Regions from separate parts of the Homo sapiens genome. Here all the other regions are linked to region 2. Evidence: fine-mapped expression QTL. A gene starts in region 2. Each other region holds a variant in brackets. All regions are shown on one strand. Distances are from middle to middle.

Region 1 (2,768 bases), 45 kb before region 2:
TTCAGAAGAGGGAGAGGTAACTGCAGGATATGCTCTAGGAGAAGGTGGAATTGGAATGAAGCAGAAAGAATAAAACCTCTGTTCAATGAAAATAAATGAGGGTTGTGAGTATTTATTTAAAAATCTTTTATTCCAAAGACAGTGGATTGTCTTCCTAAATAAGAGTTTGCCGGCAAACAAGACATTACAAGAAAATCAGCATTTCAGTGGTTGAAGAGAGGCTCTGTTATCATCATTATTATTATTTTTAACCTGGCAGAGAAAAAAGAACCAAACACTAATTGCAAAAAATTTGCTGGTGTCAGTGCTGTGACTCGGTGCCATTTCTGAGCTGAGCAATTATGCACTTCCCGACTAATGCATTATCATAATGGCTCTCGGTGGGCACAACATATGGTGTTACTTTTGTTTTCAACATGATGTAAGCCAGATTTTCTTTTTCTCACTGCACTAAAAATAACACACAATGATTTTCCTCCTTCCTTACTCAGGTAAGGAGAGGACAGACAGAAAGCTTCAGTGATCTCCTTCTGGCTCATCTCCCTTAACCAGACAGGCTGCCTTTTAAACAGCAACCCTCCCAATTGATGCTTGGCTATCACATTTGCAGAAAAAAACTTTTCTTTGATACCATTTTAGTGTGGGATACTCCACATTTTTTAAAGAAATCCAACTCTCTTGTTCTTATATCTCTTCTTTTTTATCCCCAAATCAAATTTCTTTCATCTCCATTATCAGGAACTTCTACTAGTTATCACTAAATGACAGTCTCTTGAGTTAGGGTAATTCTGTAATGGATATTTAGAAACACAGAGGAAAGGTTGATTTCCATCAAGCAACATATATTTCCATAAGCTGACCAGTAAATGTTGTCATTTAATTCTGATTTCAATTTCTTTTTCTTTCCCTAAAAATACACAAATAGTTTTAGTTGTTTGTTCTTTATTGCTTTTGTCTGGCTGCTTCCATTTGCTGTGTGTGTGTGTGTGTGTGTGTGTGTGTGTGTGTGTGTGTGCGTGTGTCTTTTTTATTGAGCCTTTTATTCCTATTTATTAAACTTCATCTGCAAATATCCAGAACTTCCTGTGTTCTCTGATTTCGTCAAGTCAGTTTTAGCTGAAATATATTCTCTTTTTTTGGATGTATATTCAGAGCTTATTGTAGTTCTGATATCATAAGGCAGAAATAATAAACAATTATTCAGTTCAATTAAAACATATTTACTAAGTATTGTCTCTGTGCCAAAGTCTTTACAAAGATGTAGGAACAGAGATGAATGTCCCTATATGCCTCCCTATATACCATGAGTACTCAGTTTTGTGCATTGGAGAGCAGCTATGGATGACAATATTACCCTGAAACAAATGAACATACACAGAAGCATCTTCCCTTTTAGGTAATTATGAAGCAAATTCCATTAAGAAAGTGACCCAAAGAATCTTAATAAAAACAGAACTTAGTGTAAACCAATGTGGTATAGACATTCCAAGTTCTGGGTC[A/C]ATATTCAACTTTAGGAAATGTTTCAATCTGTTGAGTAAATGAAAAATGGGGTTTAAAGAATTATAGCTCTGGTGGAGAAGGCAAGCTAGGCAATGGTTCCTAAACAGGGGTAAGGAGGGATGTAGATGGAACACCTCGGCTGATGAGGTTTCTCAAACTTGTTTTCTTTCCACTGACTAGTCTAGCAGATAGGGATTTGAAGCTACATCATTGAAAGAAAACAATGAGTAGTAATTTTGTGGATCATTCCTATGTGTGTTCACTGACATCAATATGAAAATGTCTGATTGGAAATTTCTTGTGATCAAATTTGTTTCCAATGTTGGAAACTAGACTTGATCTATTTTTCCAAAAGCTGACCAATATATTTCTATTGGGTATGTTAATACAACAAAGCAACTATTGCTATTTTTTTAAAATAGGAAACTACCATCACCCTCATCATACACTGAGGGGGGCAAAACAATTTATCTCAGGGAAATGTGTTGTTGTTAAGACAAGTTCATGTGTGCACAGGTTTATCTAGGTGATAGAAATAGAACAAAAGGGATTTAAACTACTCTATAAGAGGGTTGCTGGGTCAACTGGTAGTTCTGCTTTTAGCTCTCTAAGAAATTGCCATACTGCTTTCCACAGTGGTTGAACTACTTTACATTCTCACCAACAATGTATGTGTTCCTTTTACTCCACAACCTCATCAGCATCTGTTATTTTTTGTCTTTTTAATAAATAGTCATTCTGACTGGTATGAGATGGTATCTCATTGTGGTTTTGATTTTCATTTCACTAATGATCAGTGATGTTGAGCTTTTTTTCAAATGCTTCTTGGCCACATCTCTGTCTTCTTTTGAGAATTGTTTATTCATGTCCTTTGCCCACGTTTTAATGGGGTTGTTTCTCTCTTGTAAATTTAAGTTCCTTATAGATGATGGATATTAGACCTTTGTCAAATGCATACTATGCAAATATTTTCTACCATTCCGTAGGTTGTCTGTTTATTCTATTGATAGTTTCTTTTGCTGTACAGAAGCTCTTAAGTTTAATGAGATGCCATTTGCCAATGTTTTTATTGATTTTAGTGTCTTTGTCACAGAATCTTTGCCTGTTCCTATGTGCAGGATGGTATTGCCTAGGTTGTCTTCCAGGTTTTTATAGTTTTAGGTAGTCTTTAAGCCACATTGAGTTGATTTTTGTATATAGTATAAGGAAGGAGACTGGCTTCAGTCTTCTGCATATGGCTAGCCAGTTATCCCACCACCATTTATTGA
Region 2 (2,768 bases):
TGAATCTGATCATTCCTAACTATATACTACTGTTATAAGACAAACAGTGTGCCCTTAAAAATTCTTCAGTCTTTCACAGATTTTATAATATTTCCAGTTAGATTTAAACTTTGAAGATAAGGAAGGGGTCATTCATCATCGATTATGTTATCTCCATCCACGGTACCTCTTCAAACCAAACTGTGTATGGCTGAAGAAAACCAAGGATCTGGTAAGCTACAGACATGAGCAAATACTTTTAGTACTGAAAAAGAATTGAGAAATTAACTCATTACCTTTAACTTTAGAAATGAGCAAAGAAACCCAAAGAGGTTAACTATAATTAGTTCCTAGGTAAGAAGTTCTCTATATTTGCTATTTGCTTTGATGTTTGCATCCTTATCCTATTACATATTAATTTTTAATATATAATATCCTATTTTTTGAAAGCTAACATTTAAAATCTGAATCATGTTAAATAGAAAAGGAAATAAAATTTTATGTACATCTAATAATGCCTGCTCTGGTCAGACATAGGTACTGCCCTGGTGAAAGAATTTCAGGCCTGCAATAGAGAAATTCAGCAAAAGATAAAATACCACTTTCCTTTGCTGTTTGCAAATTGGATCCATAGTCATTTCTTCCCAGTTTTCCATTATTATTTCCTGAAGTAGAATGAGTTACAGCAAATCACCCCCAGATAGGTGATTTGATTATCTTTAGCATGTGGAATCTGTTACTCTCATAATGCTTATCAGCTCTGGCACAAATTGAACACATTAATCACCCAAAAAAAAGAACTCTGCAAGAAGGATAGGAACCAGTGAGTTTCACTGATAATGGGAAAATGGTTCTTTTTTTAAGGAACACATTGCTAATATTAAGCTGAAAGAAAAAGACAATTTTGAGGAAGAGAGTGATAACTATAACAATGGATAAGGAAAATTAATTTAAATGGATATTATGAGAACTGAGGCACTCAATCCTCAGGGCAAATCGTACTTTGGCAATTATTTATATTTGATTCTAATGAAAAGCATACCAGACTCCCTTTGGGACTTTTTTGGGATGTAAAATTTGGAGGAGGGCTGAAAAATCTGAGTTCGAAGATTAGCATCTTATCTTTTCCCAAATGAACATGGATTTGTGCCTTCAAATGGTTAACGCTTATCTCTATGCAGCTGGAAATACAACACAAATGGGAGCCTTTGAGTGTTCAAAGCAAACGTGGAACCAAAGCACTGCAGGAGAAAGGCAGGGCAGGGCAGCGAGGAGGGGACGACGGGGAGCTGCTATCAGTAATTCGCCCTTATCCCTGTGCCCAGCCTGCGAGGCTGAGCGAGACCCATCTATCACTGACGCACAGCCAGTCTGAGGCTTGTCCCTTTGACAACAACGTCCCTTTTGTTACCTTCCTATTATGCCTGGCAGCTTCTTGTCCATGAATTCCTGCATGCACTGGTGTTCCGTGGAATGGTTGAGAAACCTCCGGAAAGATTCAACATATTTCCCGTGGTCAGAAAACAAGCTCCTCATGGAAGATGCCATATTTGGTTTTCTGAGAAAGACAGAGCAGGAAGCAAGGTTTAAGTTCCCCTCCTTCTCTTCCCAGTTCCCTCTTTCTTTCCCCACCCCCACCAGTTTCTATCCAAAAAAAAAAAAAAAAATGCTAAGCTTGTTTTGAATTTAACATGCCACAAAGGCTGGCTTGTAGAGCTCATTACTGAGTCAATATTTGAACGGGACTTTGCACTGATACTTTAACCCCTATACGGTTGTTTTGTAAGAAATAGAAGTATTAAGCAAGGCTGTAAATCCACTGCTAAAACTTTTCAAATTCCTGAGGTTGAAAGGTCATAAAAACAAACTGTATTCAAATCACTTCCTGTTTTGTCAGCAAAGCCACAAGTAAGTTCCAAGTGGGAAAGTGACTGTTCGAAGTGGCAAACACCAGGATAAAGAGGACAGCTACACAGCACTCTCAGAAATCTACAGCAGTGAAATCTTTAACGGAAGACTGTCATCTGCCTCTGTGCTTTCTACGGGATTGTTTTGGGCCTTTACATTCCTCAGCACTTGAATTTTCAACTTATCTGCTGCATTTCTTCAAATGCTGATTTGTTGTAACTCAGAAATTATCTTAAAAGGAAGTCACGAAGGAGGAGCCCAAGAACTCGTAGCTAGAAGGTGTCAGAAGCTGCATTTAGGGGAATGAGAGTGGTAAGAGAAGTCTTGGAGCAAGAATGCAGGACACCAGGGTAAAAGTGCAGTCCATAGAATCCTTCCCTAAGCGCGCTGAACACGACGAGGTCATAGATACTTCGCTTGGCTGGATGAGCCTTTGGAAACCCAGTGGTGTCCCCACCAGAAGAGCCAAAGCTTCAGAGTACCCACACACAGTCTTTTTCCTGGGAAGAGGTCTTTAAGAAGGTCATCCTTTATCTAATATTGGGTTGTTAATAATAGCATCCAACTCATGGAGGAGTGCTGAGGATCAAATGAGTTAACTCATATAAGTCTCTTAGAAATATGTCTGCTTAAACCGTCCCTTCTTCTAATTGAGTTCCCAAGCTGCCCTCTAAGCATTCAAAACACTTCCCAACTCTCTTTTTTTTTTTGAGACAGAGTATCGCTCTGTCGCCCAGCCTGGAGTGCAATGGTGCGATCTCCACTCACTGCAACCTCCGCTTCCTGGACTCAAGTGATTCTCCTGTCTTAGCCTCCCGAATAACTGGGATTACAGGCACCCGCCACCACGCCTGGCTAATTTTTGTACTTTTAGTAGAGAC
Region 3 (2,768 bases), 83 kb before region 2:
ACAGTTCCACATGGCTGGGGAGGCCTCACAATCATAGCTGAAGACAAATGAGGAGCAAAGTCACTTCCTATGTGGTGGCAGGCAAGAGAGCTTGTGTAGGGGAACTCCCCTTTATAAAACCATCAGATCTCATGAGACTTATTCACTATCATGACAATAGCATGAGAAAAACCTGCCCCCATGATTCAATGACCTCCCACCAGGTCCCTCCCAGGACATGTAGGGATTATGGGAGTTACAGTTCAAGATGAGATTTGGGTGAGGACACAGCCAAACTATATTATTGGTCTAGTGAAAAACTGCAGTGCTGGACATTATCAGCCAGATTCTTCAGTGACATTTTTTGGTAATAAAATCCCATTGGCTAAAGAAACTGAAACAGAAGGATTAGAAAGGCAGCTTCTCCATCTTTGGACATGGAAATCAAAGGGGAAGAGGATGGCTAACACTTTTCTAAACTTCTTCCAGGGGATTGATCTAGTTTTATTTCAATTTGGAGAAATAAAGTGTGTCATCAAACTTGCATCCTGAACTTTTACATTTTTGACCATGTTTTTACTGTTAAGGCAGTTATGCATGTGTGCCTATATACACAGATAAGGTCTGGGGAAGACTGTGAAGCTGCAATGGGAAAATACATAACAGTATAAAATATAAGCATAGTGATTTAATCTGTTTGCAGATAATGTCAGCCTTACTTCAAAGCAAGTTCTAGTTGCTATTTAGTCTTCCATTGTCTTGAAGGATCTTTTGGAGGGAAGAATAACAGAATGTTTGACTTAGAAGGAACTTGGAAATTGTACAGCACTTTCATATGATGTAGAAGTATCCTAAAGCCAGTGCAGAAGTGAGACCTGATAATGGTCACATGGAGTAAACAGCACCAGTGAGACTGGAATCGGATGTTTCTGTGCCACTTCGTTCTGATCAAAAGCTACCTATAGTAACTACTCAAAGATAGCATTCTTTGCTTTCTTCCTAAGCATCAGGCATGCTTTATTTCAAGCTGTTTCCTTTGCAAAATTATTACTTTGCAAATATTAGCAGCTATGTTGGAAAACAACACAATTTCAGTGTTCGCTATGATATGAAAGGAGAAGGAAAGCTTTGCAAATATTTTTCTAAATATAAGTAATCCTAACTATGGGGCTAATCATTTTCCTGTCACCTTCATCCTCAATCTTAGTCTAAAAGTATATGCTGTTGAAAAACTTGTTCTGACAAGTACTTTTTTTTTTTTTTTTTTTTTTT[G/TG]GATAGCAACACTTTTCTTTGCATCTCTTCAACTTTGGGCATCTGCAGGTCCTGCTTTGGCTTTGTTCCTAATTACTATATTATTAGCTGATTTTCATCTATTCTTGGCCATTTAGCCTACGTGGACTTGTTTTTTCTGCCCTACTAATTAGGAGTTGAGCAGTGGGGTAGCCAAAACAAGACTGCCCAGATTCAAGAGATAACCTCATTCAGTATCAATTTTCTCATTTCAACAAACTAGGGCTTCTTACATTTTGATGCATTCGCTTTCAATCCTAATCCGCTATTTAATAAACCTCCCAAATTAACAACCCTGGGTCCATGTGGCTTATCCAAGAGAGCCCTGTGAGCTCCTGTTAATTCAATCTCAGTGGCAGAGTCTGGGCTTGATCTGCTTCCTGAGAAGCTGTATCTAGTTTTAAGCTTCTGTGTTTGGCAGCTTCACTTGGAGAGAATTTACTAATAACTCAGAGTGTAGTTTCCTCTGGGTGCCTCTGAGTGTGTGTAGGTTTTACATACCACAAGAGAATGAAACTATTGATAAAAGTTGAGCTTTACTTCACTAAATAGGAAACTCACGCTGGATGGAAAAGAAACTTAGACTCTTTGAATTGTTCCCATTAAATCTGAAAAGTCCTAATTAATTCTCTTCAGTGGTCTGCATTTCCAACCATTTATGGATTACAGTAGAACAAGGAAAACAGGGCCTATGAAGAACCCCCACATGGTTGAATGCTCATCTGTTGCTGTCTTGAAACTCTAAAAGCTGTAATCTTTGAAGGTATGTTTTGAATGTGCAACCTTGAAGCATGTGGTTGAACAAAGGATGTACATGGAAAAAAGGTAAATGCTTTCCCCTGTAATGACACTGTTGTCCAGCTTTTTGAACAAGGCTCTCCCTTTTTCATCACTGCCCCGAGTAAGAATGAGGAATATATCAGAGTCCCTACTTCAGCATGGCCATTTGTACCCACATATGGCCCTGTAACCTTCTGTCCTGGCTTGCATCCTACTCACACATCACCTTAATGACTCAGGTTCTCTTTTTCTCTCCTTCACTAGCAGTTGTTTAAAACTATTTATTTAGCACTCGCTCTATGCCAAACACCATACCCAGCACTTCACCCACATCGCTCATGGAATCACCATAGTGGCTCTCTGGGATCAGTGTTCTCATTATTCCCATTTTATAGGTGAGGAAATTGGAATTTAGGTTAATAACTTGTCCTGAGTCACATGGTAAATGTTCGAATGAGGATCTGTTAGGGTTTGAATCCTGACAGATTAAAGTCAGAGCCAACGCCCTAGAAACATGAATACAGGAAAAACAACATTTTAAAAAATGCCCAACTCAAGAATATGATCTGAATATTACACCCTAATTAATCCACTCCATGATTTCATCAGTGGTCTTTTAACATTTTATTGATTTATTTTTGCTTTTTTAAAAAAGTGTCTTCAATATAGTAGTATATTAGATTGTGATCTACTAAAATCCATCTTAACGAGGCATCAAT

Direction of the effects. Positions count from the first base shown, and alleles are read on the strand shown. Sizes are in standard deviations (SD) of each study's normalised expression. Not every link is listed here.
As copies of TG replace G in region 3, the expression in skeletal muscle of the gene that starts at base 1,546 in region 2 goes up (small effect, 0.24 SD a copy in FUSION).

Evidence for each region. PIP is the estimated chance that this variant, and not a neighbour inherited with it, causes the effect.
Region 1: its variant is the best candidate, but not a certain one, in a credible set for the expression of HNMT in lung (TOPMed, PIP 0.53).
Region 3: its variant is the best candidate, but not a certain one, in a credible set for the expression of HNMT in skeletal muscle (FUSION, PIP 0.62).

What each region holds. Positions count from the first base shown.
Region 1 is chr2:138,008,689-138,011,456 of GRCh38, reverse strand. All of the region lies in intron 5 of HNMT (histamine N-methyltransferase), which reads right to left. All of the region lies in intron 2 of LOC107985948 (a long non-coding RNA gene), which reads left to right. Among named protein-coding and RNA genes, the nearest start is that of HNMT, 46 kb to the right of the region's middle. The variant A/C (reference allele first, on the strand shown) is at 1,500.
Region 2 is chr2:137,963,251-137,966,018 of GRCh38, reverse strand. HNMT (histamine N-methyltransferase) reads right to left here and starts at 1,546. Exons shown (of 6, transcript NM_006895.3): 1 at 1,391-1,546. The coding sequence starts at 1,527.
Region 3 is chr2:138,045,948-138,048,715 of GRCh38, reverse strand. LOC105373636 (a long non-coding RNA gene) reads left to right here. Exons shown (of 3, transcript XR_923367.2): 3 at 1,906-2,768. Among named protein-coding and RNA genes, the nearest start is that of LINC01832, 55 kb to the left of the region's middle. The variant G/TG (reference allele first, on the strand shown) is at 1,252.